Regions from separate parts of the Homo sapiens genome. Here region 1 is linked to region 2. The links come from fine-mapping of genetic effects on gene expression. A gene starts in region 2. The other region holds a variant in brackets. All regions are shown on one strand. Distances are between the middles of the regions.

Evidence for each region.
Region 1: its variant is fine-mapped to the expression of SAMD1 in monocytes (Quach 2016, PIP 0.95).

What each region holds. Positions count from the first base shown.
Region 1 is chr19:14,240,111-14,245,472 of GRCh38, forward strand. No RefSeq gene overlaps it. Among named protein-coding and RNA genes, the nearest start is that of ADGRL1, 37 kb to the left of the region's middle. The variant T/TA (reference allele first, on the strand shown) is at 2,946.
Region 2 is chr19:14,087,650-14,093,011 of GRCh38, forward strand. It overlaps SAMD1 (sterile alpha motif domain containing 1), which reads right to left and starts at 3,102. Exons shown (of 5, transcript NM_138352.3): 1 at 2,136-3,102; 2 at 1,419-1,713; 3 at 1,231-1,327; 4 at 1,022-1,133; 5 at 202-926. The coding sequence starts at 2,771. The coding sequence ends at 768. It overlaps PRKACA (protein kinase cAMP-activated catalytic subunit alpha), which reads right to left. Exons shown (of 10, transcript NM_002730.4): 10 at 4,039-5,362. RefSeq lists an enhancer at 954-1,463 and silencers at 2,108-2,157, 2,458-2,717, 3,048-3,267, 3,408-3,457, 3,508-3,837.

The DNA of each region.
Region 1 (5,362 bases), 150 kb after region 2:
CAACCTCCTGGGCTTAAATGAGTCTCCTGCCTTAGCCTCCACAGCAGCTGGAACTACAGGTGCGTGCCACTGTGCTCAGCTAATTTTTTTTTTTTTTGAAATGGAGTCTCACTCACTCTGTCGCCCAGGCAGTGTGTCGCCCAGGCAGTGAGTACAGTGGTGTGATCTTGCCTCACTGTTACCTCCATCTCCCGGGTTCAAGTGATTCTCCTGCTTAGCCTCCCAAGTAGCTGGGATTACAGGTATGCACCACCCCACATGGCTAATTTTTGTATTTTTAGTAGAGATGGGGTTTTGCCACGTTGGCCAGGCTGGTCTCGAACTCCTGGCCTCAAGTGATCTGCCTGCCTCAGCTTCCCAAAGTGTTGGGATTACAGGTGTCAGCAACTGTGCCTGGCCTAATTTTAAATTTTTTGTAAAGATGTGGTCTCGAACCCCTAGCCTCAAGCGATCCTCCCACCTCCACCTCCTAAAGTGCTGGGATTACAGGCGTGAGCCACTGCATCCGGCCTCCTGCACTTCTTCCTTAAGCACATGCTCACCCAGTGCTTCCATTCATGCATGGGACCAGCACTCATTAAGCACTTACTGTATGTACCTGACCTCTGAGTATCCAACAGGCATTTTTCTCATTTAATCCTTGAAATGACCCTACTGTCATTGTACCTATATTATAGCCAGAGAAACAGAGGCACAGACCAGCAAAACCACTTACCTAAGGTGACTCAGTCAATGCCAGGCAGGGCTGGGATTTGTAGGTTTTTTTTGTTGTTTGAGACGGAGTCTTGCCCTGTCACCCAGGCTGGAGTGCAGTGGTGCTATCTCAGCTCACTGCAACCTCCACCTCCCGGGTTCAAGCGATTCTCGTGCCCCAGCCTCTCAAGTAGCTGGGATTACAGGTGTGCACCACCATGCCTGGCTGATTTTTTGTTTGTTTGTTTTCTTTTGTTTTGAGTCAGAGTTTCACTCTTGTTGCCCAGGCTGGAGTGCAGTGGCGCGATCTCGGCTCACTGCAACCTCCGCCTCCCAGGTTCCTGTGATTCTCCTGCCTCAGCCTCCCGAGTAGCTGGGATTACAGGCATGCGCCAACATGCCCAGCTAATTTTTTATATTTTTAGTAGAGACAGGGTTTCTCCATGTTGGTCAGCCTGGTCTCGAACTCCCAACCTCAGGAGATCTGCCCGCCTTGGCTCCCAAAATGCTGAGATTACAGGCATGAACCACCACGCCTGGCTTTTTTTCTTTTTTTTTTTTTTTGAGATGGAGTTTTGCTCTGTCACCAGGCTGGAGTGCAGTGGCGCGATCTTGGCCCACTGCAACCTCCGCCTCCTGGGTTCAAGCAATTCTCCTGCCTCAGCTTCCCAAGTAGCTGGGACTATAGGCGCATGCCACCACACCCGACTAATTTTTTGTATTTTAGTAGAGACGGGGGTTTCACCATGTTGGCCAGGATGGTCTCAATCTCGTGACCTTGTGATCTGCCCACCTCGGCCTCCCAAATGATTTTTGTATTTTTAGTAGAAACGGGGTTTCACCATGTTGGCCAGGCTGGTCTTGAACTCCTGACCCCAAGTGACTTGCCCGCTTCAGTCTCCTAAAGTCCTGGGATTACAGGCATGAGCTACTGCTGACCCCAGGGCTGGGATTTGAACCCACGCAGTTTCTATACCAGCCCTGGGGTCTTCATTGACATTCAGCTTATGCATCCAATGTGTTAATTCTCTCACTTCCAAACAGATGGGCGTTTCCAAGTGCCCAGAGACCCTGGCAGGTTTACATCTCTTGGCTTTATCCAGAAGGTGGTTTGGTCTTCAAGGCCGGGCACGGTGGCGCACACCTGTAATCCTAGCACTTTGGGAGGCCAGGCAGGCGGATCACCAGAGGTCAGGAGTTTCAGACCAGCCTGACCACCATGGAGAAACCCTGTTTCTACTAAAAATACAAAATTAGCCGGGCGTGGTGGCACATGCCTGTAATCCCAGCTACTCAGGAGGCTGAGGCAGGAGAATCGCTTGAACCCAGGAGGCAGAGGTTGTGGTGAATCAAGATCGCGCCATTGTACTCCGGCCTGGGAAACAAGAGCAAAACTCCGTCTCAAAAAAAAAAAAAGAAAAGAAGAGAACAGAAGGTGGTTTGGTCTTTCTCAGCTGCGCTGATGAACAGGCCCATTTCTTGTCCTCAGAGATAGGGTCTAGCGTAGCAGGGGAGTCAAGGCAGGTATCACTCAACTGAAATCCACAGGAACTACTCAACCCTGTGTAAGAGCACCTGGGATGTGTTAACTCTGCCTGGGAGAGATTTGGAAAGGCAGGAAGGACTCTTTTTGTTCGTCTTTGTTGGTTTTTGTTTTTTTTTTTTTGGATTGTTGTTTGTTTTGAGACAGAGTCTTGCTCTGTCGTACAGGCTGGAGTGCAGTGGTGAGATGTTGGTTCACTGCAACCTCTGCCTTTCCGGCAATTCTCCTGCCTCAGCCTCCTGAGTATATGAGATTACAAGTGCCTGTCACCATGCCTGGCTAATTTTTGTATTTTTAGTAGAGACGGGGTTTCACCATGTTGGCCAGGCTGGTCTTGAACTCCTGACCTCAAGTGATCCGCCTGCCTTGGCCCCCCAAAGTGCTAAGATTATAGGCGTAAGCCACCACAGCTGGCCCATCTTTGTATTCTGAGCCAGCTAAACACACAAAGGCCAGACTGGGGCAGGGCATGGTGGCTCATGCCTGTAATCCCACCATTTCAGCAGGCCAAAGTGGGAGGATTGCTTGAGGATTGCTTCAAGACCAGCTTGGGCAACATAGCGAGACCCAATCTCTTAAAAAATAACAAAAAATTAGCTGGATGTGGTGGCACACACCTGTAGTCTCAGCTACTCCAGAGGCTGAGGCAGGAGGATTCCTTGAGCCTGGGAGATTGTTAGCCTGGGTGACGGAATGAGGCCTTGTCTCT[T/TA]AAAAAAAAAAAAAAAAAAAGGCCGGGCGCAGTGGCTCATGCCTGTAATCCCAGCACTTTGGGAGGCCAAGGTGGGTGGATCACCAGGTCAGGAGATCGAGACCATCCTGGCCAACATGGTGAAACCCCGTCTCTACTACAAATAAAAAATTAGCTGGGTGTGGTGTTGTGTGCCTGTAATCCCAGCTACTCGGGAGGCTGAGGCAGGAGAATCGCTTGAACCAGGTAGTCGGAGGTTGCAGTGAGCCGAGATCGCGCCACTGCACTTCAGCCTGGTGACAGAGCGAGACATCATCTAAAAAAAAAAAAAAAAAAATGCCAAAGTGGGTAAATGACTTGCCGCAGGTCACACAGCCTGGAAGTCCGAAGGAGCCTTTGCAAGAAATCTTGCTGCTTTCAACCCTCCTTGTTAGTCTCCCAGGCTGCTGTAAGGAAGTGCTACCCATTGGGTGGCTTAAAGCAACAGAGATTTATTCTCTTCCACACCTGGAGGCCAGAAGCCTGGAATCAAGGTGTTGACAGGACCATGTTCCCTCTGAAACTTGCAAGGGAGACTCCTTCCTTGCCCCTGCCTGGCCAGCGGGCATTGGTGGTGGCCAGCAATGCTGGGTGCTCCTTGGCTTGTAGATGATGCATCTCTCCAATCTCTGCATCATCCAGTCTCTGCCTCCTCCATCACATGGACTCTCCCTCGTGTACTTGTGTCTATTCTCTTCTTACCAAGACACTGGTCGTATTGGCTGGGCGCAGTGGCTCACGCCCGTAATCCCAGCACTTTGGGAGGCTGAGGCGGGCGGATCACTTGAGGTCAGGAGTTCGAGACCTGAGGCAAGTTGCAATTTTTAGCCCCATTTTATAGATGAAGCCACTGAGTCTTGGATAATAACATGCTCATTCTTCCTGGAACCACCCAGAAGACTTCTGCTGGAGTCTTATTGGCCGGAAGAGTGTCACACAGCCATCTCTAGAAGGAAGGGAGTTGGGAGGCTGAGGTAGGCGGATCACTTGAGGTCAGGAGTTTGAGATCAGCCTGGCCAACATGACGAAACCCCGTCTCTACTAAAAATACAAAAAATTAGCCGGGCATGGTGGTGGGTGCCTGTAATCCCAGCTACTCGGGAGGCTGAGGTAGGAGAGTAGCTTGAACCTGGGAGGCGGAGGTTGCAGTGAGCTGAGATTGCACCACTGTCCTCCAGCCTGGGTAACAGAGTGAGACTCTGTCCCCAAAAATAAATAAATAAATAAATAAATAAATAAAATAGAAGCAAGCGGGACTTGAAGGCTGGAATAATGGCAAGGGGAGCTGGAAGAGGGGCTGGAAGACAAAAAAAATACATAAACACATAAATAAATAAAATAGAAGCAAGGGGGGCTGGAGGGCAAGGATTAGGCAGGGCACACTGACACTTAAGGAGCCCTGTGTTAGCAAAGGAAAGAGATAGGTGTGAATTTGACAAACTGTGTCTCCCACAATTCTCCCTGCCTCTGAATCTGGATGAAGTATATTGAGTGCCCGCTAAGGACTAAGCACTATGCTACAGACTCACGGCAAATTATTCCTTTTTTTTTTTTGAGATGAAGTTTTGCTCTTGTTGCCCAGGATGGAGTGCAATGGCACGATCTCGGTTCACTACAACCTCTGCCTCCCAGGTTCAAGCAATTCTCCTGTCTCAGCCTCATGAGTAGCTGGGATTACAGGTGCACACCACCATGCCCGGCTAATTTTTGTATTTTTAGTAGAGGTGGAGTTTCACCATGTTGACCAGACTGGTCTTGAACTCTTGACCTCAGGAGATCTGCCCACCTCGGCCTCCCAAAGTGTTGGGATTACAGGCGTGAGCCACTGCACCCAGCCTTCAAGGCAAATTCTTTTTTTTTTCCCCCTGAGATGGAGTTTCACTCTGTCATCCAGGCTGGAGTCCAGTGGTGTGATCTCAGCTCACTGCAACCTCTGCCTCCTGGGTTCAAGCGATTTTCCTGCCTTAGCCTCCCGAGTAGCTGGGATTACAGGTACACGCCACCACGCCCAGCTAAGTTTTTGTATTTTTAGTAGAGACAGGGTTTCACCATGTTGGCCAGGCGGTCTCAAACTCCTGACCTCAGTGATCTGCCCACCTTGGCCTCCCAAAGTGTTGGGATTACAGGCATGAGCCACTACGCCCGGCCAAGACCTCAACTCTTAAATAAATAAATAAATAAAGCCAATACCATCCCTGCAGAGTTAGCTTTCAGGAGGGCTTATATTCTAGTTGCTGAGGGATGGGGTGGCTCAGAAATAATATTGGTTATGGGAATAACTTGTACTGTGGTCCAGGCACTGCTTTGAGGACTTCTCATTCACTAAGTCAATTATTCATTACCCGCTATATAAGGTGGGTTTTTTGTTTTTGTGGATTCTTTTTTTTTTTTTTTTTTTT
Region 2 (5,362 bases):
TTACAGAAGAAAAAAAAGCAAATATTCCCACCTTCCTGGAGCAATTATTGTTATACATGGCTGTGAGGCAGCTATAATTCATTGTTTCTGTTTTTCTCCCTCCCCAAACAATTCTGTCCTAACCTGAGGCTCTCTTAGGAGGCTCTTTAGTGCCCTCTCCCCACCCCATTCATAAAATGGACTCCGTGGCTTTTTTTTCCCTTTTTCTTTTTTTAAAATTTTATTTAAAAAACCTTCGGTGCAATATTAAAAAGCAATACAGCCAGCTGGAGCGACAATCAACAGAAAGAAAAGAGGGAGGAGAGAAAAGGCCCGAGGAACCCCAACCCAGCTAGTCCCCTAGGGGCTGGAGGCCAGGGGCAGACTGAGAAGGGGGGCATGGGTGGTAGGGGAGGGAGGAAAGACCACCCACCAAAATAAACAGGCAGATCCAAACATTTATACAGGAAACATCTGGCTGAACGGAAGAGGATCTTGGGGAGATGAGAAGCCCCCCACATTTCATTTTTTTTTTCCTAAAATGTCCTGGACTGGGTGGGGAGGGTCAGCCACCTGGGGTTTAAGGAGCAATCCCCTCCCCACACCGACGTGCTGAGGAGCAGATGTGTGTGAGACAGACACAAGGGGCAAAGATAAGGACAAGAGGGTGCCCTCTCCTTGGAATCTGTTATGAGGGCTGAGGGTGTCCCCGTCCAGCTCCTGGACTCTGGGGGATCTTGGGTGAGATGGGGGCCGGAATGGGCTGGGGCAGGGGTGAGGCTGGGCGCTCAGCCTAAGAAGCCATCGGGGTCATCATCCTCAAAGTGGCCTTGCTGAAGCACCTTGATGTGGTGCTCGTAGATTTTCAGGGCTGGCCCGAGGCGGATGGACAGGCCGGTGAGCACATCTGTGCGCTGCATGAGCAGCAAAGATTTGCCATCAATTTCCTGGGTGGGACAGGAACAGAGAGAGCCGGGATCAGGGCACATCCCAGGGAGGCCCTCTGTGTCTGTCAGTGTGTAGTCCTGGGCTGGAAACTCACCTGCTCTTGGAAAGCTGTCGCCTGCTCCGGGAATCCAGCCTCAGTAAAATATTCGACGACATCCATCACGGTCCACTCGACGGGATCAGATGGCTTCTCTTTGCGCCCGGGACTGCATCAAAACAAACAGACACCAGTGAACACGGATGTCTCTCTGGCTGTACCACACACCTGAGCAGCACCCCCATGTCTCCAATACCCCAACTTACGGACAGCCAAAGGGGGTCCCGTCGGCCCCAGGTAGGGCTGGTTTGCCTGGGGGCAAAGGCACGGGGGACGGGGAGTCTGGCCCGGTGGCAACAGAAGCTGGGAAGGAAAAAAACACCTGTCTTTGGCTTTGTCTTCGGGCTGAGTTCCTCTCCACCTAGCACTCTTCCCCACCCAGAGGGATCCTTACCTGTTCCCCCTTCCTTGTTCATGGCTGCCATGGAGAACACCTGGCGGGTGCCGCTGCCCGGGGCTGGCCCCCGCCCTTCATCCTGGCCCTGGTGCGGTCCGCAGGGGGTCCACTCCTTGACCCTCTCCTTGGCACTCTGAGGTCCCCGCTCGCCGTTAAGCTGGTGGTGCTGGGCACCTGCAGGACGGTCACTCTCGGGCACTTCAGAGCCCTCTGACACATCATCTTCTTCATCTTCATCTTCATCATCATCTTCTTCCTCTTCTTTCTCAAGTACTCGCTCTTCTCCACCTCTCTGGAGCCGAGGAGAGAAGCATGCAAAATTAGTAGCTGTTCTAATCCCAGACCCTGACTGTGGCGTCCGGGCGGTGGGGAGGAGGAACCGATTCCACCTTTAAGAACAATACGGACTAACTTTTACGCATTCACTCCGTGCCAGGCTCTGTGTTAACTAAAGCCCTCGACAACCAAATCTTACTAAACTCGCTCAACAACCCCAAGGGGTCGCTACTGTTATTAAACCGCGTTTACAGCGGAGGAAACTGAGGCTCCGGGAGATTCAATCACTTGCCAAGGTCACCACGCACCGAGCCCGCAGGAAACGCGCGCAAAGCCCCAGCCACCCGCCACCCAGTTCCTCCCGGGACTCGCGCCCCCGCCACCAACTTCGCCCGCACCTGCCCACCGCGCGGCGCCCCCGCTCCCCGGCGCGCTCACCTTGCTGCGAGACGGGCGGGCGCTGGCGGCCGGCGGCGCCCGTCCGGGCCTGTCCCCGCGGGGCAGCGCAAGCGCTCCGAGACGGGTGCGCTCCAGACGGCCTCGAGCCGCCGCCTCCTCCTCCAGCAGCCCCTGCACGCGGCCGCGGGTTAGGCGACCGCCGGCGCCGCCGCTGCCCCCGAGGTAGCGCACGACTTCCCGCAGGCTCACGGGCCGCGCCGCGCCGCCGGCCCGCACCGCGCCCCCCTCCGGCGGCGGCTGTGGCTGCGGCGGCGGCGGCTGCTGCTGCTGTGGCGGCGCCGGCGGGGCCGGCGGGGTGGCTCCGCGCCGGGGCGGCTGGACGCGCGCCGCGTTGCGGTACGAGATGCTCCCCTTGTAGCTGACCCGGAGCACGGCGCGCTGCTGGATCAGTTTCTCGAGCTCGGCGCGCGTGCGCTCCGGCTCCGGGCCGTGCCGCCGCCGCACCATCCGGCAGATGCGCTCCAGGTCCGGCCGCGCCTTGCGCGAGCGCAGCGAGTCGATGGTGTCCAGGATCCACTCTTGGTAGTGCGGGGAAGCGGCGGACGACGAGGCGGCGGCCGCCGTGGTGGCGGCCGCCGCCGTCTCCGGCGGGGGTAGGGCCGGGGGCCCCGCCATGCCTCCCGCCCGGCCCGGCTGCACCGTGCGCGCTGCCTCCCTCCCAGCGCGGCGCCCCCCTCCCCGGCTCCCCTCCCTCCGCCGCTGCCCGCCTCCTCCGCCTCCCCCCCCGGGGGGCGCAGCGCCTCGGCGGAGCGGCGGCGGCGCTGCTGTTTCTTTGCAAAAAAAAAAAAAAAAAAAAGAGAGAGAGAGGGAGAGAGAGAGAGAGGAAAAAACAGTGAGAGAGAAAGAAAAGAGAGAAAAAAATATGCACACACTCACTCACTCGCACGCACGCACACACAGACCCGCTTCTGCTGGGCGCGCGCGGGGCCGGGGATGCGAGGGGGAGGAGGGGAGCGCGGCGCGGCCGGCCCCTCCCCGCCGCCGCCGCCGCCGCACGCGCGCCCTGCGCCCGGGACACTCCGGCCCCCCTTCCTTCCCTCCCTCCCTCCTCCCCGCCGCCCGCCTTCCTCCCTCCCACCCCCACGCGCCCGCTTTTAAGGTGGAGCCCGGGCCCCCCGCCCGCCCCCTTTACCCTGCGCTCTCGCTCACTCCGGCTCGCTCCGGCCCCCCCTTACAACTCCCGCGCGCTTTTTAAGGAGGCGCCGCGGAGTTGGCCCGGGGCGGGGGCGGGGGAAAGCGGCGGGCGGGGGAGGGGGAGGGGAGTGCCGGGGGGAGTGGAGAGGGGGCGGGCAGGGCGGGCGGGCGGCGCTCGGCCGCCCTCCAGCCATTGGGCGCGGGACCCAGACGTCCCCGGCGCCCAGCCCCCCTCTCCACGCCTCTCCAGCGCGCTCCGCTCTCGGGACCGCACTTACCGGGAACTCGCCGCCCGCGGGCCGGGGCTGCCGCGCTCGCAGGGTGCTGCGGGGACCCTCCTGCTGCCGCCGCCCCCGCGTCCCTCAGGCGCGCCTGGCCCGGCGCTGAGGATGCGGGAAGGGGGGCGCGCACCCTCTCCCCCTTCTACTCCCCCTGCCAGGGCCGCCCCCGCCGCCGCTCGGCCTCCTGGCGCGCCAGCCCCAGCGCCTCCCTAGAGCGCCCTCTCGGTCCCGGGCTGGACGCCGAGGGGGCGCGCCGCAGATTTGGGGACCCCGAATCTGGGGTCAAAGGGCAGTTTGACGCTCGTTTCTCCTGCGGGGCCGAAGGAGTGCCGGAATTTCAGCTAAACCCTGGTTACAAGGACTTCAAGCCAGGACCTGATCGGCCTGCACGCTGGGGTCCGAAATTCCCTTTCCAACCCCCTGGGGGTGTGTGGGTGGGTGATCGAAGTCGAGAACACCAGCGACACTTTTTTTTTAAACAAAACTTTATTGGTAATAGTTTTCAAATATGTTTACAACAGCACACTGTTCAAGAGGAAGTCTCGTCCTTCGCAGCACACAGGTTGAATCGCCCCCGCACCCACCCGGGGCCCCACCCCAGGCCTGAGAACTCCTCCTGGGATGGGGAGAAGTTATGAGAGGGGGAAATACGGGGATGAATGGGGTGGCTCCCCAGCGGCTCCCCACTTTTCTATTACGAGAGAAAAAAGCACAAATGAGAAAGTGGGGGAGAGGTGATGGACAGCTGACAGCTAAGCTGGAGGAGGGGCGCCCAGGATGGGGGAGGCGGAAGCTGGTGGGTGAGTAAAACAGGCAGCCCCTCCCCAGCAGCTCTAGCCTTGAACCCCGGGCCGTGGCTTGGGGGGACTTGGCCTCTTCTGTTCCCTTTTGCAGGGATGCCCTCCCCACTCAGCTGAGGGAAGGCTGGACGTTAAAATCTAGCGGAGAATAAAATTAAGGAGTTGGGGGGAAACGCTGCTGGGAGGAAAGACTTGGGCTTGGGGCTCCCCCTCTGTCTTTTTGGGGGATGACTCCTCTTTGGCAGGGAGAGGGGCAGCTGCTTTGTCTGGCTTTCAAAGCCCAAGGGTGAAGACAGGTCTGTTGGGGAAAAAGAGAGCGGAGGCTTCCTAAAGGGGCCTAGACCCTCGCAGGATTGGCAGAGAGGATTCCCCGGGGAGGGGCCCAGGGGAGATTAGCAGCGGGGAGGTTCAAACCCCAGCGCCTCCCTTTCCAAAGTCAGTCTGCTTCTCTTTAAAATGGATTTGAGGAATGGGGGGACATGGGAGGGGTGGGAGTAGAGGAAGGAGGGAGGGAGGCACTGGTGGAACTTAAATAAGATTTTAAATTGTTGTTTTTTTAAAAAAATTCTAGCAAGCAACCCACTGAACATGTCACTAAAAATCTCTCCTTCCCAGGCAGGATTACTCCGAAAGGAAGGTTGGCGCTTCGTTCATTTGCCCTTAGCAAGTGGGGCCTGTGGTTGGGTGGGATGGGGGTGTGGGTGGGGGCTGGAGTTAAGCGTGAGCCCCTCTTTCCATACCCTGTCCCTGGATACACCAGCAAGACCTGGTCTGACTGGAGTTGAGAAACTCGTTTAAAACAGGCAGAAGTGGGCTGGGAGGGCTGAGGGGCTGGGGGGCTGTGGGGAAAGAGGAAGGGAAAAGTGGGAGAGGGGGCAGGAGGGTGAAGGGGATGAGGGGGAGCAGCTGGTGTTTCTGTCCCTCTGATTATCTGGGCTTCCTGCTCCCCCTAACCCTGGAGGGTGGGGTGGGGGTGAAATTAGATGCAAGG